7 linked regions of the Homo sapiens genome follow. The protein of the gene in region 1 purifies or fractionates together with the protein of each later gene. This does not show direct contact. Each region holds a gene or a part of one and is shown in the gene's direction. Other genes may lie near its edges. The genes, in order: API5, XRN2, PRKCZ, TBC1D23, LSM12, OSGEP and UPF3A.

Region 1 (3,500 bases):
GGGTTGTTCAGCCAAATACTTCAAGGAGAGGACATTGTTAGAGAACGAGCAATTAAATTCCTTTCTACAAAACTTAAGACTTTACCAGATGAAGTCTTAACAAAGGAAGTGGAAGAGCTTATACTAACTGAATCCAAAAAGGTGAGCTTTGGTCTTCATTTGGTGGAAATTCTCTAAAGCAAAAGAGCATACTTGACATTGGCAGTATTCGTCAATGTTATGTGTGGCTTGTGTATAAAATGATATATCATATATCCCATTGGAACCACCATAGAACTTCTAAGTTTTTCTTAGATTGAATTTAGCACTTTTGTCGGTGGTAATGATGAATCAATTTGGTAATTTAAAGGAATCTGATTACATTTAAACTTTTCGTGGTAGTGTCCTTAAAATTTGTGCAACCTCTGCAAATCACCTCCTTCAGGAAACTTTCCCTAAGTCCTACCCCTCCCTTCCATTTTAGGATACTCTCTCATAGTATTCTAAATTATTTCAAAATGAAACATCACATCAAAATGACCTGTTGTCACCTTAGCCCTTGACACTATCTGCTCTTCAAGGGTGAGACCATGCTTGTCTTTGCTCCCAGCATCTAGCATAGTTGTAGACGCTAAGATTGGCAAGGTGCGTCACAATTAACTTTTCACTCATCTTAATGTGCCAAAGTTTGGGAATAGTTTACTTTTTTAATATGTTACAGAAGATTCAGCATTTTATCTAAAGCATGTGATCACTGTTATGGTTCAGGCTTTAGAAATTTCAGACTACTACTACCCACTTCCTTATTGATAAGATTATTTTTCAGTGAGAAAAAAGTAGATCTTTAGCTGGGAGTATCAGACTATTTTACCTATGCCCCAGCTTGTAATCTGGTAGAGTATGTCGTGATTGTGAGCTTTTTTGGTCCATGAATAGAAAGATTTAGACCCACTGATATGGAAGATTTAACATGAGACTTGCAAGGTGACCTATTTTGTATACAACAATTACCATATTAATATGAATTAGGCTGCTTTTAAATATAGGATACAATCTGATTCAACAGTTTGCTACAGAATTTTTCCAACCATTTTTTAAAGTCACTCCCCTAAATAGCCAATTTTTTTAATTTTTTTTTTTTCTTAACTGCTCTCCCATGAAATTTTAATGCCACATATACACTGTATATCTGTTTATGGTACTACATGTATATCTGTGCTTTGTACGTAAAAAAGTAACATTTTCTAAGAACCAATTTTTGCCCCCTTGGAGAATGCGTGGTTTACACTGAAGCTCAATTGACTGAAGCTAGAAGTTGCCTTTTCGTCAGTATTTTGGAAGCATTAATAACAAACTGACTTTAGTAACTGAAATAAATTAGCTATTCTCTTTCAGTGTTGATCTGTCCCATTCAAATGATGAACATACTCTTATTCTGAATTGTCTCTTTTCCAGGTCCTAGAAGATGTGACTGGTGAAGAATTTGTTCTATTTATGAAGATACTGTCTGGGTTAAAAAGCTTACAGACAGTGAGTGGAAGACAGCAACTTGTAGAGTTGGTGGCTGAACAGGCCGACCTAGAACAGACCTTCAATCCCTCGGATCCTGACTGTGTGGACAGGCTCTTACAGTGCACTCGGCAGGCAGTACCCCTCTTCTCTGTGAGCTCTTTATTTTTACACACCCGGTATTAGCTATATATATATTTCCATAAATACTCACTTTAACATTCCCCTTAAACCTTTCCAGTAGTGTCCCTTATCTGAAATGCTTGCTTGGAACCAGAAGTGTATTCAGATTTTTGAATATTTGCATTGTGCCTGGTTGAGCATCCCTAATTCAAAAATCCAAAACCTGAAATGCTTTAATGAGCATTTCCTTTGAGCGTGATGTTTGAGCATCACATTGGTGCTCAAAAAGTTTTGGATTTTGAAGCATTTCAGATTTGGGATTTTCAGATGAGGGATGCTTGGTCTGTGTTTATGAAGGCCACAGTGGTGTTGGTGAGAACCCAAAGCAGCAAGAAACTTTCTTGAAAGAAAGAATTTTTTTTTTCCTTTGAGACAGAGTCTTGCCCTGTCACTCATGCTGGAGTGCAGTGGCACGATCTTGGCTTACTGCAGCTTCTACCTCCCAGGCTCAAGCCTTCCTTCCATCTCAGCCTCCCAAGTAGCTGCTACTACAGTCATGCACTATCACACTCGGCTAATTTTTGTGTTTTTTGTAGAGACGGGGCTTCCCCATGTTGCCCATACTAGTCTTGAACTCCTGAGCTGAAGCAGTCTGCCCACCTTGGCCTCCCAAAGTGCTGGGATTACAGGTGTGAGCCACCATGAGTGGCCAATAAATTTTTTTTAAGTCTTCCTAGAGACTTTTTTTGAAAGTCATGAGAATTTTGCATTCTGTCTCAGGCTTTGTGTTTCCTGAGGCCATGCATCTTCTGGGATGTGCATACATTCATTTGAAAAACACAATTTAAAGGAACTATCCTAGAGCAGGCGTGGTGGCCCGTCCCTGTAATCCCAATCCCAGCACTTTGTGAGCCAAGGTGGGAGTATCACTTGAGGCTGAGTTCAAGACCAGCCTGGGCAACAGAGCAAGACCTTGTCTCTACAAAAAAAATTAAGTAATAGAATTATCCCTTTTGAGAAATGTGCAGTCTGAAAATCCAACACTAAAAGATGTCCACAATTCATTTATTTATTTATTTATTTATTTATGAGACAGAGTCTCGCTCCATCCCCCAGGCTGGAGTGCAGTGGCATGATCTTGGCTGACTGCAACCTCCACCTCCCAGATTCAAGCAATTCTCGTGCCTCAACTTCCCGAGTAGCTGGGATTACAGGCAAGCACCACCACACCCAGCTGATTTTTTGTATTTTTAGTAGGGATGGGGTTTTGCCATGTTGCCCAGGCTGCTCTCGCACTCCTGAGTTCAGGCAATCCACCTGCCTCAGCCTCCCAAAGTGCTAGGATTACAGGCATGAGCCACCATGCCTGGCCATGCCCCAAATTTGACCAGAGAATCAAGGAAGAGATCAAAATGTATAGATGTTCCAATGCTCCAGATGACTTTGCAGTAAAGTATATAAGGGGTCTTCAAAAAGTTCCTGGAAAATGCATATTATGAAAGAAAAAAAAAAAACTACGCATGGATTACAAAACATTTTTCACCAAAATAAACTTGTACTTATAACATGTCTGAACAGGATATAGTTTGAGGAACTAAGAAGGGTCAGACATCAGTTTGAAAAGAGCACCTATCAGAGCAACATGAATTCTGCTAAAGTTGAAGCAAGAACAAATATCGAATTTATGGTGAAGCTTGGTGGAAGAATAGTGAAATCATTGATGCTTTATGAAAAGTTTATGGAGACAATGTCCCCAAAGAAATCAACAGTTTACAAATGGATCACTCATTTTAAGAAGGGACAAGACAACGTCAAAGCCCATTGCAGCAGATCAATTTGCGAGGAAAAATTTAATCTTGTTTATGCCCTAAATGAAGAAGACCGATGAT
Region 2 (3,500 bases), on another chromosome or scaffold:
AATAGTATTCCTTAGGTGTAAACTCTGGCTCTCCAATTCAGCATGGAATAGATCTAAATAAATATCTTAAGGTAGCACTTACTGGTTACTCCCTGTTTGTGAACTCAGCAACTGCATGCATTTATTTGCCTTGTGGTATTCTTCCATATTTGAACTTGGTAATCCAAACTCCAGAAGCAAATCAACCTATCCTGCAAGGCTGTACTTTGTCCACCACCTTCCTATTGTAGTGGAAATAGACCATGAGCTCTCAGAATACCCAGTGGGACAGCAACAGGGCTGAGGGAACAGACCCTGATCTAACAGTAGAGGAAGGAACATACACTTTTGCTATGATATATCCAAGGAAATTGAATAAGCTTGGATATTTAATTTCTGTTATTCTGTTAGTTATCCTATTGATGCTCATATGGAACAGAAATAGCTGATGCCCATCATTCAAGATTTTAGTGACTACCATCCCCGCAGAGCAGAACTGAGAGTGACTGGTGGTGTTATATGCCCTGTTGATGGTAGAGTACTTTTTTTTTTAAATCTTGGGAGGCAGGCAGGTTTAAACTTTGCCAGCTGTGGTTGCTTCAGGAAGCATTCCAGTATTATCTTCAGGCCCGGTAGTATTAGGCCACAGGACCAGACTGTAGATCGATAACATCTGCCATAGGAGTAGTAATGGGGAGACTGGTGATGAGGTTGCTTCTTTGATTCTGTCTTAATTAACTTCCCTTGCCACAATTATTTCTATATAGAGGAGGTATGGAATTCGAATCTTTGCAGAGTGGGATTTTCACCTAGAATGTTCTAAATTTAAGGAAATTTTGAAGTCAAATTACCAGTTTATTTAAAGGGAGCCATTAAAGTTACAGATTTCTCGTGTTTTATTTTTCTGAGCTGTTGGGTTGTAGTCTCTAATACTTATCTACTGATGATTAACATTCTTAGTGTTTTATTAAATAGCTTCCATTTCCTTATATTTGTGGTTTTATATTTAGCGTTCTTCAGTGTGGTTTCATTATATCTAATTTGATGAAAAAAACAGCTTAAGAAGAAATTTGAATTTAATATGAATCTGGTATGTTCACAAGGGAATATTTTTGTTGGTAGAGACAGCAGCGGAGATTTAGCATTAAATGGTGAACAGCATTTTTTTCTAGAAAGTATATTATTATTTGTTTTCTAAAGATAGAGTTTATATCTTGTTAGTAATTAATTTTGTTAAAGTTTGCTTTTTACACAACTTCTCTGTAGACAGTTAATGGGAATGTCACTCTCATAATTTAATACAAATGGATTAGTGTAGGGTTGAAAAAACAATAGTGATTACTTACTGAATGGTTAACTACCATGTACCATGTAGGCAGCATGCCAGTAATCTTTCACATGTATTGATGCATTTAATCCTTGCAATAACTTGTAAGGAAACAGAACGTTATCATCCCCATTTTAAGATGAGGCTCACAGAGGTTAAGTAATAAATTGTTCAAGGCCACACAGCCAGTAAAGGTTGAATTTGGTATTTCAGACTCAGATCTGTATGACTAAAATACAACAATACCTGCCTCGTTTTCCAAGTACAACAGTGCCTTCCTGTATTTATTTTTATTGGGTTTTTTTTTGACAATATTGTCTGTACCTTTTCATTAATAACATTGACATTATGTTTTTAAAAGAGATGTGCTCTAAGTTCTATGTGAAATATGATTTCGTATTATTTTAACTTTTCTTGACCTGTGGTATGAACTGTGTTTATGCTGTGGATACTCTAATTATTATATCATTCAAATGGCCTTCTGTGCTCTCAGTTTAAAAAAAATTCAGTTTACTTGAAATAGCTAATATACTGTGAGTAACAGAAGAAAAACTTGACTGTGGAAATGTTTCTGCCCCTTATGTTTTTGGTGATGTGGTCCTTTAGCTTGAGTAACTAAAGTTGCAGAACATTTTCTTTTAATTTTTAAATATTAAAATATGTTAGGGTTATATTAAAATATGTTAATTAAAATTAACGTATTATGTTAATTGAGTTAGGTACAAAGGGAAGATAATACTGAATTTAAAGTGACAGCTAAGTCTTTGAAATACCAATAAAATCTGCATTTTTCTAAGATGACTAATAGATTTTTATTTGTTGATTGATTTTTAAAACTGAACATATAAAGTAATTTAAGTTATCTAACACAGTCTTATTAAACTTGCTTTTCAGAGTGGTTGTACTAGGTTGAAGACTTAACCATTTAGCTGCATTCTCACCAGCATTGACTATTTTATATATTATTACATCTATATTATTATATATTATATGCTATATATGTAATGCATTTTATATATCACATAATTTTTTCCCCTCATAGCTTTGCCATTTGGTAGGTGGCAAATGATTGTGAATTCCTAACAGGAATTGTTACAACTGATTGTCACAAATGATTGTGAACCACCAAAGGAAAATAAAATTCAAGTACTATAATTTTTAAAAATCTATAAAATTAAAACTTTTTTTTTCTTCAGAAACTTTTTTTTTTGCCCTAATAATGTTAATTGTTTTTAGTTTAAGCATAGAAAGTTTGGGTATTACATTACTTCTTTTGAGGGGAAGTGAAATGGAGCAAGATCAGTCTCTGTACCTTCTAAATATGTTTACCATCTCTATGTAGTAGCTTTAAAAATGTTACTGTGAAACATGGTAAGTAGTGGTGGTTGGATGTACCTTCTTATGTAAAATGAATAATGAAATCCTTCTTCTGTAATGTCATCATTGTCTGCAGAGTCCTTCGATATCTCCTAATACGAGTTTCACATCTGATGGCTCCCCGTCTCCATTAGGAGGAATTAAGCGAAAAGCAGAAGACAGTGACAGTGAACCTGAGCCAGAGGATAATGTCAGGTGAAGCCATTTTTTGGTAGCACTTTGTTAGCAAATTGCTGAAATAGATGCAGTCTAATTAATGCTATTTAGCTTAGAGCAGCAGTGCCTTCAGATGCTTGCCTGTGATCTTTTTATCCATCAGTAATTAATGTGGAGGGTTAGAATAGTCAGTAAATTCCAGTGAGATGTGTAAGCTGTAGCTGTTAAACCTAAGTGTCTAGATTAGTATGCGTGCAGGCTTTCGTCCTCCAATCCACTTTTCCCTCTGAGACCAGGCACAAGATCGGCTAGATATCATATCTAGGTGTTTAGCTCTGACTATGTGATCTGAATGTTGCTGTTTGGAGACTGATTAAATTTTCAAGCTGCTTAACCTAGAAAGTTCAGTTATACTTAGACACTTAATATAGTTTGCCTTAATCTTCTCTATTGAAAGAGTTCTTCCTCAAAATGAAATATGCAGAAATCATTCTGTTAAGAGATCAATATGTATGTTTTTTAAAAACCACAGACTTGCATATGCGCAATTATATTTCATGACAGAGGAGTTTCCCTTTAACTGTATACTTCAAATTTAAAATAGGAAGCTGATTCTTTAATTCATCCTGAAGTTTGAGATCATTATATAATAAGATTAACA
Region 3 (3,500 bases), on another chromosome or scaffold:
CCCCTAACCTGTCTGTGCCTCGGCTTCCCCATCTGTAAAATGGCGAGAGCTGAACTTACTTCCTGGTGATGGGGTCAAGTGCGTTAACACAGAGGGACTTGGAGACTGACGCTTACTGAGGGCCACACCAGCGGTCAGCAAAGGTTGTCTTAAAGGGTCAGGCAGTAAATATTTCCACCTTTGTGGGCCATGCGGCCTCTGTGGCAACTATGCGTTCTAAAACAGAAGCAGCCTTAGACACTGCGTGAAGGGACGCGTGTGGCCGTGTTCCACCAGAACTTTCTGTACACACATGGTGGTGGCCCGCCCGGACCCATCTGGTTAATTCTTGACTCTCAGGGCAGCGTCTCCTGTGCCTCCAGGAGAGGGCTGTGGTTCCTCCCTCTGAGCCGGGCACCTTGCATTCCTGGAAGGGGTGGGGGGAGTGGCGAGGAGGGGGCGGCACCAAGGACAGGGCCCACCTCCTAGGAGGTTTTGTGAGCTTCCCTCAGCCCCCGGCCGCCCCCTAGGAGGTTTCGTGAGCTTCCAGCATCCCCCTGCGGCCACTGTCCCTCCATTTCCCATGTCTGTTGGATGGTGCCGGTTCCAGGGCAGGGTCAGGGACTGGATCCGGCTGCGGTCTGCGTCTCGCCTGGTTCCTGAGAGCTGCACTTTGTCTTTGGTTGTTGATGAATCCATTTTTGCTGGCGTTCTTCACGTTTGTGTATTTGATTAAGTATCATGGACAGGCATGTGCAGTGGCTCACACCTGTAATCCCAGCCCTTTGGGAGGCTGAGGCCGGAGGATCACTTGAGGCCAGGGGTTCAAGACCAGCCTGGGAAATATCTCGAGACCCTTTCTCTACAAAAAATTTAAAAATTAGCTGGCGGTGGTGGTGCAAGCATGTGGTCCCAGCTCCTCGGGAGGCTGAAGCCGGAGGATTGCCTGAGCCTGGGAGGTCGAGGCTGCAGTGAGCCATGATCACACCACTGCACTCCAGCCTGAGTGACAGAGTGAGATCTTGTCTCAGAAAAACAGCCCCGAGGGCACGTGTCTCATGACTCCCGCCTCCCGCCTCCCATCTGGGCTCTGCTTGCTCCTCTCCCCTTGCAAACATGAGAGGAGCGTTAATGCCAGGACAGGGAGCAGGGAGGGGCATCCCCAGCGCCTCCAGGCCACAACATGGCGAGTGTGGCTACCAGGACACGGAGGGGCAGCCTCAGCCCCCTCCCCCAGGCCACGACATGGCGAGTGTGGCTACCAGGACACGGAGGGGCAGCCTCAGCCCCCCCCAGGCCACGACATGGCGAGTGTGGCTACCAGGACATGGAGGGGCACCTTCAGCCCCCCACCCCCACCCCCAGGCTGTGCTTCCCAGCATCCCTTGGGGTCAGGACTGTGTGTGTCACTGAGGGGCTACGGGTGAAGCCACACACGCCCCTGGCCTGGCCTTGCGCCCCTGCCTGAGAGCCTCTATGCAGGACAGCGCCTGTGGGGCACCCAAGTGGGCCGAGCCCATGTGGATTACAGGTGCACACCACCAGCGTGAGGAGAGGAGTGGGCTCGGAGCATGCTCAGCCATGGTCCCAGGCATCTTGTCAGCAGCCAGCTCAGCTTGTGTCACGCAGAGTCGCCTTAGAGTGAATTGACACCAGATTGTCCTGGTGGGTTTTTGCTCTGAAGAAATGTCAAAAGTAGCATTAAGGTTTTTCTGTAGACAAAAAAACCCCACCATCATTGCAGCTTGAGCAGTTGCAAATTAAATAAATTCCTTCCTCAGCAAGCTGCCTGGGTCCTAGGCCTTGGGCAGAGAGAACTGGCTTTCAGCACAGTTCCCGTGATTGGCTTTTCTCTGGAGAAGAAGGGGAAGCGGCCTCCGCCTCTACCTCTCTAAGTGTTTAAATGTCCCCCAAATTCTCTCAGCCTCCTGAGGCATTGTATTGATGCTTTTCTCTAGAATTCATGTATTTCTTTATTTTCTCTGGAAATGGCATTGGCTTTGTCCCCGTCCTATGGGCCGTGATAGCTTAAAGTTAGGATGAACCCACAGAGGCCGTGGAGGCCCTTCCCAGGCGCCGCAGCAGCACTGTTGGGGTGAACGTGGCTCCTCTCGGGGGGACAGGTGGAAGGGACCAGCACCCATTGGGGCGTGTAACTCCTGGTGGCAAAAAATGTGCGGTGAAGTCACCCTAAGGGTTTTTGTGGTTTTTTGTATTTTTATTTTATTCTTTGAGACAGAGTCTTGCTCTGTCGCCCAGGCTGGAGTGCAGTGGCGCAATCTCAGCTCACTGCAGCCTGTGCCTCCTGGGTTCAGGCGATTCTCCTGCCCTCAGCCTCCCGAGTAGCTGAGATTACAGGTGCACACCACCAGCCCTGGGTCATTTTTGTATCTTTAGTAGAGATGAGGTTTCACCATGTTGGCCAGGATGGTCTCGAACTCCTGACCTCAGGTGATCTGCTTGCCTTGGCCTCCCAGAATGCTGGGATTACAGGCCTCGTGAGCCACCACGCCCAGGCACTCTAAGGGTTTTGAATAAATTCTTTCTTAACGTTTTCTGACCGACTCTTAGGTCGTGGGTGTCCTCCAGGGGTTGGAGGCCTTCATGGAGCTTCGTTCCGTGGGGTTGACGTTACTGAACGAGTCCCTCCACGGGTGCACTGAGGACGTTCCTGCACATCGAGGGCACCCTCAGAGCTGCTCTTTCTGTCATTGCTATTTTGTTTATACCGGGGATTGGCAAACTTTTTCTTGAAGGGCCCAAGAGTAGACATTTTTGGCTTTGCGGCCACAGGGTCTCTGTTAGCAACTCCCTCTGCCACGGTGGCTGGAAAGCAGACATAGAAAATAGATGCACCAGTGAGCATAGCCTCGTTCCAATAAAACTTTATTTACAAAACAGGGAGCAGTGGACCAGCGAGTCCCCAAGGACAAGGGCCAGGTTACCAGAGAATTTCCAGGCACATCCGTTGGAGGCAGGGGAGACAACAAAAGCCGAGGAACGAGCCTTCCCCAGCCGCTCCCCAAAGGCACGGCTTATTCTTCAGGGTGCCCGACTGGCCACGTGGACGTCTCTCCAGCTCCTCACTTGGGGCCCAGGGCTCTTTCGATTTTTAGGAGTTTGTTTCCAATCAGAAACTTCACAGATGATTTGCAGCCAGTTCACCTGCCCTGTGTAAACTGGCCTCTGTCCTCTCTGGCTTAATTCTGGGAGCTTGTGGAGGGCAGGAGCAGGGACAGGTGCCTTGAGGCGTAACAGTGGCGGTGGTGTGGGAGCTTGCGTGGGATCGAAGGAAACGGGCAGAGTCACCACACGCTTCCCTCCTTCACTCCCCGCTCCACGAGGGGCAGCCAGGAGCAGCCACCAGTCGGAAGCAAATAAACAATTCAGGTGCCAGAGGAGCCGCTGACCTAAAAAAACCCGCCACAGGGTATTTCTGGGAGATTGTATGAGAATTTAATTTTGAAAATTGAGTCTCATGAAATGTAGGAAAAGATCTTATTAGGAAGAGAAACCATGTG
Region 4 (2,873 bases), on another chromosome or scaffold:
GTGTCCCCAAAGTATCTTTTGTAGTGTGTTTTTTCTTTGGTGATCCATGATCCAGTTCATGGTTTACACATTGCATTGTCTGTTATGTGTCTTTAGTCTCACCCTGTGTACAGCAGAACTCATCCCCCCACCCCCTCGCTTCCCTTTTCTCTTCATGATGAATGAATCCTTTGAGTCCAGGTCAATCATCCTACAGAATGTTCCACATTCTGCACTTGTCTGATAACTGTCGTATTGTATTACTGTACATAAAAAATGTGAGAGTATTATATTAAAAAGAAGCTGAGATACAGGGGTTGGGTGAGTGTTAATAATACTATGCTCATTTTGCCTTCAGGATCCAGTTACAGAATGTTTACAAAATATGTAGGGAAACCCAACAATTGCCTAGTGATCTTGGATATTAGATATAGGATATGGTGCATTGAATGAGAATAGTTTATGAATATAGGTAATAGCGTTAAAAAATCTGAAACGTAATATACTCCATTTCAATAAAAAATATATTATTGTAGTGATTTCTATGTTGTATGGAACTTTTTATTATATTTATTATATTTTCAATCATTGCAGGATTATCTGTTAATAAAATATTAATTTTGCATACAATTAAAAGGTGTTAATGTGTAGCTTACTTGTTTATAGATTAACCTCTGTTTATATCTTTTAACTCAATTTTATTTAGAGTTGAACATTTCTAATAATTGAGATGGTTGAAACAACACCTGTTTTGAATTAAATTTACTTAAAAATTCTTTTTCTTTTAATGCTTTTTTTGTCTCAAGTCATCTGTTGGTTACTGCAACACATATGTACTGTTTAAGGGAGATTGTTTCACGGAAAGGATTGGCTTATATACAGTCTCGACAAGCGCTGAATTCTGTAGTTAAAATTACATCCAAAAAAAAACATCCTGAACTCATTACCTTCAAGTATGGAAATAGCAGTGCTTCAGGAATAGAAATCTTGGCAATCGAAAGGTAAGATTTTCCTTAAGATAATATTATCTGAATTCAGATATTATCTGAATTACTGTAGTTCACTATAAAGAGTTTGTTTCTTTATTTTGGGGAATGGATGGTGGAATAGGATAGCTGAACCACTTTTAGTGTTTCTTATCTCTTTCTCCGGAGTCCTTAGTCATGTGTGGTTTAGCCATTAGCACATGATTTGAGTAAGTGCCATAGCTAATTTCATAAAGTTTCTGACCCAAGGATCCTTATTGTTAATCTGTACCAGTGCTGCACTAATTGCTGGCTTGCAGAGAAATAAGAAACTTGTTTTAGAATATGTTGATATTTTTATTTTCCTTCATCGAAAAATTCTTGTTTTGACAAACTGTCAGTGAACTAAGCAGTGTGCTGGGTGATATAGGTAATTTACAGCCTGGTACAAGCCCCCCTTTGTCTCATTGTGGGTCACTAACAGTTCACAGACTGGCCCAAGAGCTGTGGACCACACTGATATTGATACTAAACCATTTTTTAATTATAGATAAAAATATGAAGCCCAGAGGGGTGGAATGACTTCCCAGATCCTAACACTTAGTTTGTGACAGAACCAAATATAGCCTTCCTGACTCCTGATTTGTGGTTTATTATACCTTGCATCAGTTCAAGTTGTTCCCCCACTGGGATTTAGGATTACACTTATTATTTACAGGAGTGCTTGGATAAATAGTAAGCTTAAGGTTATATCGCAGCACTTTTAAATAATCAACTTCAGTTGGAAGAGGAAATTATTCAGCTTCTTTCATCTTGTACTGACAATTAGGTAGCAAACATCATGAATCTATACTGTTTTATGTAATTTGTTAAAAGAAAATAATACCTGATTTGTAAAAAAAAAAAAAATCACTTCATTGCTTTATGTAAGAATAAATATTTACATAGTGATATTTTCAATTAATAATATAAAGAATATGTCATTCTAATTCTCTGTTAACACATTGATGTGTATCTTCTCAGATTTTTTTTAATGCATATGTTATTTCTCTACTAAAAACTAGATAAATGTGATATAGGCTTGTTTTTGTGTTCTGATTTTTTAAGAAAATAGTATAGTGTGAATATACTTACATTTTAATAAATATAAATTTTTTAAAATTAATTAATTAATTTTTTTGAGACGGAGTCTCTGTCACTCAGGCTAGAGTGCAGTGTTGCAATCACGGCTCACTGTAAGCTCCGCCTCCCAGGTTCACACCATTCTCCCTGCCTCAGCCTACCGAGTAGCTGGGACTAGAGGCGCCCGCCACCATGCCCAGCTAATTTTTTTATTTTTAGTAGAGATGGGGTTTCACCGTGTTAGCCAGGATGGTCTCCATCTCCTGACCTCGTGATCCACCCACCTTGGCCTCCCAAAGTGCTGAGATTACAGGAGTGAGCCACCGTGCCCGGCCCAATAAATATAAATTCTTAGCTTTTTAATGGTAGATATTCTGTTATAAGGATTTCTCAGGAGATTGATTTAACAAGCCTCATGTTGATTGGCATTTACATTGTTTTCATGTGTTTCACTATTAATCTTCTAGTGGGCCTTTAAAAACATGTATGTTTACATAGTTGTCCAATTAGTCTTCTCAGGATAAATTCCTGCAAGTAGATTCAATGGGTGAGAGGTATACACATTTTAATATCTACTTATAAATTAATCCTAACCAAAGGAGATTTGAATTATGACTCTCTCATGTATAGTAAAAGTTGGGAATTGTGTTTTAAAGGCTTTCCCACAAATTTTGCTAAATAAATTGAAGTTTATTATATATGGATCAACATCTTTTTTTTTTTAATTCAGAGTTTTGGAAGATAGTCTTAATAGTGGAAGATAAAGTAACTAGATTCTCTCTCTCCCTTTCTTCATTGATATTTATG
Region 5 (3,500 bases), on another chromosome or scaffold:
GAGGCAGGAGATTCGCTTGAACCCTGGAGGTGGAGGTTGTGGTGAGCCAAGATTGTGCATTGCATTCCAGCCTGGGCAACAAGAGCAAAACTCCGTCTCAAAAAAAAACATTTTGTCACAGCAGAAGTCATTTGACTCTCCACTAGCTTCCCTAGCTGCTGAAAAACTGGAACATTTGACACCCCTCTCCACCCCGCCTCCCCCCACCCCACACTGCCATCTGTTACTCTGTTTAACCACCCTGGATCTGGTGCACAGATGGCAGCTGGCATCAGAGCTGTTTGAGGCTGTGGTGTGAGTATCTGAACATTTACAGGTATGTGAAGGAACTCCCAGTCGCATCAGCTGCCCTGGGGCTTCCCAAGTGTGAACTGGAATGGGTTTTCCCAGTCTGGCAAGTGCCCAACTGTCTGATAATTGAGAAGAGCCAGTCTGAAGAGCAGCTCCCATTATGGGTGATAAGGGTCAGAGTACAGATCATAGGAAGATGGGGAGTTTGTTCTCTCTCTCTTTTTTTTGAGTCGGAGTCTCACTCTGTCACCAGGCTGGAGTCCAATGGTGCAATCTTGGCTCACTGCAATCTCTGCCTCCCAGGTTCAAGCGATTCTCCTGCTTCACCCTCCTGAGTAACTGGGACTACAGGCGCGCAGTCCCACGCCCAGCTAATTTTTGTATTTTTAGTAGAGACAGTTTCATCATGTTGACCAGGATGGTCTCGATCTCCTGACCTCATGATCCGCCCACTTCGGCCTCCAAAGTGCTGGGATTACAGGCGTGAGCCACTGTGCCTGGCCTTTCTTTTTTTTTTTTTTTTTTGAGACAGGGTCTCACTTTTATTGCCTAGGTTGGGAGTGCAGTGGTGCGATTTTAGCTTACTATAGCCTCAATCTCCCCGGCTCTGGTGATTCTCCCACCTCAGCCCCCGGAGTAACTGGGACTACAGACGCATGCCACCACTACCGGCTAATTTTTTGTATGTATTTTTAGTAGAGACGAGTTTTTGCCCTGTTGCCCAGTCTGGTCTCGAACTCCTGGACTCAAGCAATCTACCCACCTCGGCCTCCCAAAGCGCGGGGATTACAGGTGTGAGCCACCGCGCCCGACCTGTTCTCCTGTCTTTCTAAAGGTGGTATTTCTCCCTAGGCCAATGGTTGACAAACTATGCCAGCAGGCCACATCTGCTCATCTGTTTTACCTATTGTCCATGCTACTTTTGTACAACTATGGCAGAACTCAGTGCTAGTTGTAACAGATGATATGGACTGCAAAGCCTAAAATGTTTGTTACAAGACCCTTAAGAGAAAAAGTTTGCCAGCCTCTGCCCTAGGCTGCTATCTTAATTTGGATTCTTGAGGCCACTATCACATTTTTATGGCTCTCCAGATCTCTGATGCTTCAGAGTAACAATTTCTGGGCTCTCCCAAGAATAAATGTGCATGAGTTTCATTGCTTTTCTAGCCAGTGGCACCCAAGGAATGTTTCTTGGCTACTATATGGGCTGCTGGCATCTAGTTGTTGGCTGAGTGGTGAGCTGGGAACTTGGGATCAGCCTTCTGGAGTTATTTATTCATCAGACAGGAGATGTGGGATGCCCCCAAGAGGTTACATTTCGCCTGCTGTCTTCTCCTTCCAGCATTAAAGACTGTAAATGGCAAGAAAAAAACATCGTAGTCATGGAAGAAGTTGTTATTACACCCCCATATCAAGTGGAAAACTGTAAAGGCAAAGAGGGGAGTGCACTGAGCCATGTACGCAAAATAGTAAGTAAAGGAGCCTTCAGACTTTAGGGGAGAGAGGATGGTTCCTCAGGCCTTCAGTCTTTAGCACCAGACCAGGACATTGTGCTACAGTCTCTGCCTCCTCTAGCAGCAGAGGCCCTGTCTGGCCTCCCTGCCTTCCCTGTACTGTGGGGTTCTGCAGTCCTGTGGGAATGGAACCACTGGGTGGTGTGGAAAGAAGTGAGTGGGTGACCCTATGTCCTTTGCTGGCTTTTTGGAATTAGGAAGACTGTTCCATGGTATTGGGCCTGAGCAGTTTCTCTCATCCCATATTGAGTTTTTCTTTTTTAGAGACAGAGTCTCGCTCTGTCGCCCACGCTGGAGTGCAGTGGCGCGATCTCAGCTCACTGCAACCTCCGCCTCCCGGGTTCAAGCGATTCTCCTGCCTCAGCCTCCCGAGTACCTGGGACTACAGGCGTATGCCACCACACCCGGCTAGAGATGGGGTTTCACCATGTTGGCCAGGCTGGTCTCGAACTCCTGACCTGAAGTGATCTGCCCACCTTGGCCTCCCAAAGTGCTGGGATTGCAGGTATGAGCCACCACGCCTGGCCCCATATTGGGTTTTTCTTAGCTGCAGGTACCATTCTAGAAAGATCTGGTTGGTATAAATCAGTTGCCGTCGGTGTCTCTGACCCTACATATGTCACTGGACTTAGCATTTGTTAAAACAAACTTAAAAAACACTCCTGCTTTTTTTTTTTCCTCTGAGGAACATTGAGAGACCAACATTGTAGATGTAGGAGGTTTGATAAGACTGTAATTCCCCCAGCAGCTTTTCATTTTGTACTTGGGTATAGAAGAGAGGAGGAGTTTAGGTCATGATAATCTCCCCTTATTATATTTTATAGTTTAGTTTGTAGATTCACCTTCTTCTAGCCAATCTTAGTGGAAACTGCAAAAAAATGTGGCTGAAGCAGGAGGCCCTGGCCTACCTTGTGGTTGGGAAGGCCAATAGACAGCAAGGGCAAAGGTGCCTGGACACCAATGGGCTGGACAGCCAGGATGGGGCTGTGGAAACCTGGGTTGGATTGTTTGGGAGACCTTTCTTCCGCATCTCCTTTGTTGACCTGGGTTGCCTGGTCTTTTTCAGGTTGAAAAACATTTTAGAGACGTGGAAAGCCAAAAGATACTGCAACGTTCACAAGCCCAGCAACCACAGAAGGAGGCTGCCCTGTCATCCTGAGTCCGTACACATGGAGGACTCTTCCAGCATCCAGCCAAGGAGGCGCTGGTGGTGGCTTCAGCGGAGGCAGGCCGGGGGAGGGAAGGGATCCTATATGTCCTGTTGGCTCTTAACAAAGGGTCAGCATTTCCAAATCTTAGACTTGAACAAACAAAACACCCAACAAAAAAGAACAAGAGAATAATTTAAAAGTTGAATCATTACTTGACTAACAGACTTCGGTCCACCATGTCCTTTTCACAGCCCTCTTCTGGAACAGTCACCTTGTTAATTTTATTTTTGAAAATTATTTTCCCACTCTGCCCTTTACTTCTGACTTTCCTTTCCTAGTTTGTTCCTGCCATTCTGTTTTTATAAGTGGCTACACTTGCCTTCTGAATGATTGAAAGAAACTTTTACATCTTTTCTTCCAAAATAAAAGTAACAAGCTGACTGTGATTCTTAAATTGAGACCAGAGCAGCAAACGTCTCACTTTAAATTTTTGTTTTCTTTTCCTTTTTTTTTCTTTTTTCTTTTTTTTTTTTTTTTTGCACAG
Region 6 (2,956 bases), on another chromosome or scaffold:
AAATTTTGGCAGCATGATCAGAACATTAGATGGCTTATCATTATCAGACTTTATATCTGATTATAAAGATTAGGAATTTCTACTTCAGGAAAGGAATGAATGGGATTGAAAAGGATTGAAATCTTCAAAATAATGAATATCTGAAAGCTCTTGCATTATTTTGAAGCTTATTTTTTCTATAAATCTTAGCAATTGAAACTAACAGTTGCTGGGTATGGCAACTCATGCCTGTAATTCCAGCACTTTGGGAGGTCGAGGCGGGTGGATCATCTGAGGTCAGGAGTTTGAGCCCAGCCTGGCCAACGTGGCAAAACCCCATCTGTACTAAAAATAACAAAAATTAATTTGATGTGGTGGCAGGTGCCTGTAATCCTAGCAACTCCGGAGGCTGGGCAGGAGAATCACTTGAACCCAGGAGGCGGAAGTTGCGGTGAACCGAGATCGCACCATTGCATTCCAGCCTGGGCAACAAGAGCAAAACTCCGTCTCAAACAAACAAACAAACAAAAAACAAAAAAAAACAACTAAAGGACACTACCTGATTTATTATTTTGGGGCAAGTACATGTTTTGTTTTTATATTACTGGGAATGATTATGTAGACTTTGTTATTCTAAGAGTTTAGAAATATAAATAACTTTAAAAAATACTTTGTAAATTATAGAAGGTATTTTATTTTATCTTATTTATTTATTTATTTATTTGAGATGGAGTTTCGCTCTTATTGTCCAGGTTGGAGTGCAATGATGCAACCTTGGCTCATTGCAACCTCTGCCTCCCGGGTCCAAACTATTCTTCTCTACTCCCGAGTAGCTGGGATTACAGGCACCCGCCACCATACCTGGCTAATTTTTTGTGTTTTTAGTAGAGACGGGATTTCACCCTGTTGGTCAGGCTGGTCTTGAACTCCTGACCTCAGGTGATCCACCTGCCTCGGCCTCCCTAAGTGCTGGGATTACAGGCGTGAGCCACCATGCCCGGCCAGAAGGTATTTTAAATTTATAGGTGAAGCTAAAGTTGTTTGGGTTACCTTATATGACCTTTTTAAGGTTGGGATTGGATTCTTTTCCAACAGAACACTTGATTATCATTAGAAATAGTTCAGCATTGTCCCCAGCTCATGAAAGGGTTGTGTCGAGAAGATGAGGCACATGTTTCCCATGAAAATGATGCAGAAACTTCAGCAGGTAGAGGGCAAGTAGTTGGTTGAGGCCTGAAGGATGACATACAAGGTCAGAGACTTGGGTTGTGGAAAGTATAATGGAGGCTACAAGAGTTGATGAAAGGAGCAGTGACGGTTTTGTCTTCCTCTTCTCTTTTAATGTTTGCTTAGGTGTAAGAAACAGGGAGGGTGATTAGGTGGAGAGGAGTGGATAGCAGAAGCAGAAAGGCAGGATTTTTCCTTCGCCTTTGTTACTGTCTTTTTGACAGCAGATTAAGATCTGTATCAGAAAGGGAAGAAATCCCTAACAGCACTGGGAAGGGAAAGGGACTTCTTAAGGTTCGTAGGAAGCCCTCGGTGTTATAAGTCTGCAGAATATGTGTCAGTAAGGGACAGATATTCTCTGTGCTAAAAGTTGGTCACATATGAAGAACGGCCTTAATACAAAAAAGTGGTGGTGGGTGCCTGTAATTCCAGCTGCTTGGGAGGCTGAGGCAGGAGAATTGCTTGAACCTGGGAGGCAGAGGTTGCAGTGAGCTGAGATCACGCCATTGCACTCCAGCCTAGGCGACAGAACAAGACTCTGTCTCAGAAAAAAAAAAAAAAGAAAAGAAAAATGGCCTTAAGTGAATTGCCATTGCTGACTTGGCTGGGCCATTAGTCTGACTCCATATGAGATTTTTGAGTTCTTCAGCTCTGCTTCTTGGTTCTAAATACCACTGCCCAGCTGCATACGGTGGTTCACACCTATAATCCCAGCACTTTGAGAGGCTGAGGCAGGTAGATTGCTTGAGACCAGGAGTTTGAGACCAGGCTGGGCAACATAGTGAGACCCCCATCTCTACAAAAATATAAAAATAAGCCACACATGGTAGCCCAGCTACTCAGGAAGCTGAGGTGGGAGGATCCTTTGAGCCTAGGAGGTGGAGGCTACAGTGAGCTATGATCACACCACTCCACTCCAGCCTGGGAGACAGAGCGAGACCCTGTCTCAAAAAAAAATTACCACTGCCACTGTGTCATAATTTAGAAGGATTCATGTTCTCTGCCTCCAAGCAGAAAAGCCGGTTACCTACTATCAAGACTGCATTTAAGGGATATATTAGGAACTTCTAAGCCGGAAAACCAATGTATTTGAAATGACAATTTATTTCTGCCTGAACCTACACTGTCTAGGAATCTGTTCCTGGAATCCTCAGGGTATACAGATTTCTTCTCAAATCAGAGCTGTAAAAACTACCCATTCACCATTTGGGAAACACCTTTCTTCCACTTCTTATTGGAAGCCCTGGTGGTCATGTTGATCCTCTGCTATGTTTTTCTCCCAAAGCCAAATAATCCTCTTTACAGACTTGGGGTTTCATGGACTTCCTCATCACCCTTAGGTGATTGCATACTCGGAACATCGTTACCGTATCTTTGGGGAAACCATCGATATTGCAGTGGGTAATTGTCTGGATCGTTTTGCTCGAGTGCTGAAGGTAAGCCAGTGGGGCTGCAGAGAACATAAAATGTGGGTGAATTTTTGGGAAGCCATGGAGGTGGAGGGAGGAAATAGTAAATGAGCTTCTTATGCTTCCTGCATATCTGATTTCATCCTCTTCCATTCCCTCCTTCCTTATTTTTTTCTTCTGCTAGATTTCTAACGACCCAAGTCCAGGATACAACATTGAACAGATGGCAAAGCGGTAAGGGGACATAAGGTGGAAGCAGGCTGGCTGCTGGGGCTTCAGGGATTTCCCCATATACGGTATATATTAACAAAATTTGGGACGGGCTTTGGAGGGTGAGAAGC
Region 7 (3,500 bases), on another chromosome or scaffold:
ACGTGAACATCTTTGCATCACATTAACCTACCTTACTTTTCATGACTAAAAAATATTTCATTCACTGAATGTTCCACCACGTATTAAACCAAAAACCTCATTTTTGGACCTTTAGCTTTAATTCTTTGCTGTGCAAACATTTGGCTTCAATATTGGGGTATATTTGTAATTATTTATTTAACAGCTTCTTTTAAAATATGCTCTCAAGGTGATACTTTACTAACATTGTAATTTCTCAGCTTCTTAAGAAACCAGAAAAGGGAGAGGAACCAACCACAGAGAAACCAAAAGAAAGAGGAGAGGAGATTGATACTGGAGGTGGCAAGCAGGAATCCTGTGCCCCCGGTGCAGTCGTAAAAGCCAGGCCCATGGAAGGCTCGCTGGAGGAGCCCCAGGAGACGTGAGCGTGCTTTCATTGTTATGACCACGTCAGCTCCCAGTCATGGTGACGTAGGCTTTGTCAGTATGAGTATGCCTATTTCACACTGTTCTTGGAATCCAAGACTTTCCAGGGTGTGCGAGTACACGTTAGCCTTCATTTCCCATCAGCATGGCAGGAACGTAGTGAACTCGTCTTGTCTGCAGTCTCAAGTCTGTCTTCAGATCGGGAGTTTCTTCCTGTTGTTTGCTTTGCTTTTGCCTCCATGTCCTCCTTTTACTCCTGAGCCGCCTCCTGGATTCCTGCTGTTGCATGTCAGGTCTTCAGGATCTGTCTTCCCAGTCTTTCTTTTTGTTTTTTGTTTTTTATTTTTCTCTGTGTTTGTGATATCTTGCCCTTTGCTCTTTTATCCCCCTTGCAATTTATCTACAGAATTGCATATTTGGGAACCCCCTCTTTTAGGTCTGGCAGATCTTTTGTGATAGAGAAACAGAATTTTAAGTGCTGTGATCCTTTGGTTGAAGCTGTCCCTGGCTCCTCTGGCTGTGGATCTTGACCAGCAGCTTTGGCTGTGCACTGTGGGTCCTCCCTTTTTCTTTTCCTTTGCTGCATATGACAGTGCAGCTCTATGGAGGGAGCTCATCTGCGAAAGGGACAGACACAGCATTATCTGCCCGGTGGGCCAGAGAGACCAGCCAGATGCCAGTCAGGAGGGATCCTGTCCCTCTTGCTCCTGGCATCCACCATCCTCAGGGCCCCAGGCACCTGGGCTTACCTTCCCCTCCGGGACTCCTGCCCACTCACTGCCTCTCGCCACCCACAGTCTCCTGGTGCCCAGGGCCACTTGGCCCACAGGGGATGATGGACGTGGATTTTAGGTGGGAAGACTAATGCGATTAGGCTGCCGGCTTCCCAGAGCCATAGTCGTAGGTGTGATTTCTCACTGCCTTTCGTTCAGAGTTGATGAAGTATTTTTTCTACTTCTTGGGAGTTTTGGTTTATTGCTTTGTTTATAAAATTTATATATGATTATCAAATCCATGATTGTGAAGCACTGTGATGATGTTACCGGTGTTGTTACTGTGACAGTTGATGACACAGCAGGACCTACTGCCACGTGTCTGCTGTGAATTCATACTTGGTTACAGATCCTTATGGTCCCCAACAGCCCTGGCAAATGAGCGAAGCAGCCATTTATTTACTATTCATTTAATATTCTGATAAATGCATAAAGATAATTAATCTGCCATTATTAAATGTCAGTTAATTTTACTCTGCACATCATGATGGATGTGCACCTGGGCTCCCAGGACAGCCACTGGACCACTTTAGTCTCAGTCATTTTATCTGTAGAAAAGAAGGTTTATTTTATTTTGTTTTATTATTTTATTTTATTTTAATTTTATTTTTGAGACAAAGTCTCGCCCTGTCGCCCAGGCTGGAGTGCAGTGGCACGATCTCGGCTCACTGCAACCTCCGCCTCCCAGGTTTAAGCAATTCTGCTTCAGCCTCCCAAGTAGCTGGGATTACAGGCACCCGCCACCATGCCTGGCTAATTTTTGTTTTTTTTTTGTTTTTTTGAAACGGAGTTTTCCTCTTGCCCAGGTTGGAGTGCAATGGTGCGATCTCAGCTCACCACAACCTCTGCCTCCTGGGTTCGTGCAATTCTCCTGCCTCAGCCTCCTGAGTAGCTGGAATTACAGGCATGCCCCTCCATGCCTGGCTAATTTTGTATTTTAAGTAGAGACAGGGTTTCTCCATGTTGGTCAGGCTGGTCTCGAACTCCTGATTTTAGGAGATCTGCCTGCCTTGGTCTCCCAAAGTGCTGGGATTACAGGTGTGAGCCGCTGTGCCTGGCCTAATTTTTGTATTTGTAGTAGAGACAGGATTTCATCATGTTGGCCAGGCTGCTCTCAATCTCCTGACCTCAAATGATCTGCCTGCCCCTGGCGTCCCAGAGTGCTGGGATTACAGGCACATGCCACCACACCTGGCTAATTTTTGTATTTTCAGTAGAGAGGGGGCTTCACCATGTTGACCAGGCTGGTCTCCAACTCCTGGCCTCAGGTGATCCCACCCACCTTGGCGTCCCAAAGTGCTGGGATTTACAGGCGTGAGACACCATGCCTGGTCAAAAGAAGGTATTTACTTTGGAGGGTTATTGAGAATTAGAAAATATGTATAAAAAGTACCTTAGCATGGCCAGGCACGGTGGCTCACACCTGTAATCCCAGCACTTTGGGAGGCCAAGATGGGCATATCATAAGGTCAGGAGATCGAGACCATCCTAACTAACACAGTGAAACCCCGTCTCTACTAAAAATACACAAAAAATTAGCCGGGCGTGGTCGCGGGCACCTGTAGTCCCAGCTACTCGGGAGGCTGAGGCAGGAGGATGGTGTGAACCCAGGAGGCGGAGCTTTCAGTGAGCTGAGATCCCGCCATTTTACTCCAGCCTGGGCAACAGAGCGAGACTCCATCTCAGAAAAAAAAAAAAAAAGTACCTTAGTATAAGGCATATTGCCTATCTGTCACTCAACTGAAATGACAGATACTATTACTATGATTTATTCCTCTTTGTAGTGGTTTTTATCAACGCCTGCTGTGTGCCCATCGCAGTGCAGCCTCAGCAGTGCAGCGCTGAGCACTTCGCATGGGTCCCTGTTGTCTGGGAACCTGTGGTCTAGAAAGGAGGGTGGGCAGCCAACCGGCGGTTTACTGCAGTTGCTGATCATTTGTGTTGAATCATAGGTCACACAGCGGCAGTGATAAAGAGCACAGGGATGTGGAGAGATCTCAAGAACAAGAATCTGAAGCACAAAGATACCATGTGGATGACGGCAGGAGGCACAGAGCTCACCACGAGCCTGAACGGCTTTCCAGAAGGAGTGAGGATGAGCAGAGATGGGGGAAAGGACCTGGCCAAGACAGAGGGAAGAAGGGGAGCCAGGACAGCGGGGCTCCGGGGGAGGCCATGGAGAGACTGGGAAGAGCGCAGAGGTGTGACGACAGTCCAGCACCCAGAAAAGAGCGACTGGCAAACAAGGTTTTTATTAAACCCAAAAAGAAAAATGTGTCTGGCTGTCTTAAGGTCCAGGCTGCATGCTGACCATGTCACCCC

Evidence for each region.
Region 2: the proteins of API5 (region 1) and XRN2 fractionate together in Homo sapiens (co-fractionation; one large-scale study listed by BioGRID). This does not show direct contact.
Region 3: the proteins of API5 (region 1) and PRKCZ purify together in Homo sapiens (affinity purification with mass spectrometry, with the first as the bait; one large-scale study listed by BioGRID). This does not show direct contact.
Region 4: the proteins of API5 (region 1) and TBC1D23 fractionate together in Homo sapiens (co-fractionation; one large-scale study listed by BioGRID). This does not show direct contact.
Region 5: the proteins of API5 (region 1) and LSM12 purify together in Homo sapiens (affinity purification with mass spectrometry, with the first as the bait; one large-scale study listed by BioGRID). This does not show direct contact.
Region 6: the proteins of API5 (region 1) and OSGEP fractionate together in Homo sapiens (co-fractionation; one large-scale study listed by BioGRID). This does not show direct contact.
Region 7: the proteins of API5 (region 1) and UPF3A purify together in Homo sapiens (affinity purification with mass spectrometry, with the first as the bait; one large-scale study listed by BioGRID). This does not show direct contact.

Annotation. Positions count from the first base shown.
Region 1 is NC_000011.10:43,321,996-43,325,495, forward strand, and holds part of API5 (apoptosis inhibitor 5), read left to right. Parts: coding exon 1-141; intron 142-1,434; coding exon 1,435-1,641; intron 1,642-3,500. UniProt on the Homo sapiens protein: Antiapoptotic factor that may have a role in protein assembly. Negatively regulates ACIN1. By binding to ACIN1, it suppresses ACIN1 cleavage from CASP3 and ACIN1-mediated DNA fragmentation. Also known to efficiently suppress E2F1-induced apoptosis.
Region 2 is NC_000020.11:21,341,331-21,344,830, forward strand, and holds part of XRN2 (5'-3' exoribonuclease 2), read left to right. Parts: intron 1-2,759; coding exon 2,760-2,878; intron 2,879-3,500. UniProt on the Homo sapiens protein: Possesses 5'->3' exoribonuclease activity. May promote the termination of transcription by RNA polymerase II.
Region 3 is NC_000001.11:2,165,411-2,168,910, forward strand, and holds part of PRKCZ (protein kinase C zeta type), read left to right. Parts: intron 1-2,880; coding exon of another isoform or gene 2,881-3,157; exon of another isoform or gene 3,158-3,500. UniProt on the Homo sapiens protein: Calcium- and diacylglycerol-independent serine/threonine-protein kinase that functions in phosphatidylinositol 3-kinase (PI3K) pathway and mitogen-activated protein (MAP) kinase cascade, and is involved in NF-kappa-B activation, mitogenic signaling, cell proliferation, cell polarity, inflammatory response and maintenance of long-term potentiation (LTP).
Region 4 is NC_000003.12:100,319,992-100,322,864, forward strand, and holds part of TBC1D23 (TBC1 domain family member 23), read left to right. Parts: intron 1-785; coding exon 786-980; intron 981-2,873. UniProt on the Homo sapiens protein: Putative Rab GTPase-activating protein which plays a role in vesicular trafficking. Involved in endosome-to-Golgi trafficking.
Region 5 is NC_000017.11:44,035,672-44,039,171, reverse strand, and holds part of LSM12 (protein LSM12), read left to right. Parts: intron 1-987; coding exon of another isoform or gene 988-1,083; intron 1,084-1,633; coding exon 1,634-1,760; intron 1,761-2,069; coding exon of another isoform or gene 2,070-2,267; exon of another isoform or gene 2,268-2,310; intron 2,311-2,871; coding exon 2,872-2,964; 3' UTR 2,965-3,500. UniProt on the Homo sapiens protein: Nicotinic acid adenine dinucleotide phosphate (NAADP) binding protein. Confers NAADP sensitivity to the two pore channel complex (TPCs) by acting as TPC accessory protein necessary for NAADP-evoked Ca(2+) release.
Region 6 is NC_000014.9:20,448,857-20,451,812, reverse strand, and holds part of OSGEP (tRNA N6-adenosine threonylcarbamoyltransferase), read left to right. Parts: intron 1-2,546; coding exon 2,547-2,642; intron 2,643-2,799; coding exon 2,800-2,849; intron 2,850-2,956. UniProt on the Homo sapiens protein: Component of the EKC/KEOPS complex that is required for the formation of a threonylcarbamoyl group on adenosine at position 37 (t(6)A37) in tRNAs that read codons beginning with adenine.
Region 7 is NC_000013.11:114,298,601-114,302,100, forward strand, and holds part of UPF3A (regulator of nonsense transcripts 3A), read left to right. Parts: intron 1-239; coding exon 240-400; intron 401-3,130; coding exon 3,131-3,425; exon of another isoform or gene 3,426-3,451; intron 3,452-3,500. UniProt on the Homo sapiens protein: Involved in nonsense-mediated decay (NMD) of mRNAs containing premature stop codons by associating with the nuclear exon junction complex (EJC) and serving as link between the EJC core and NMD machinery.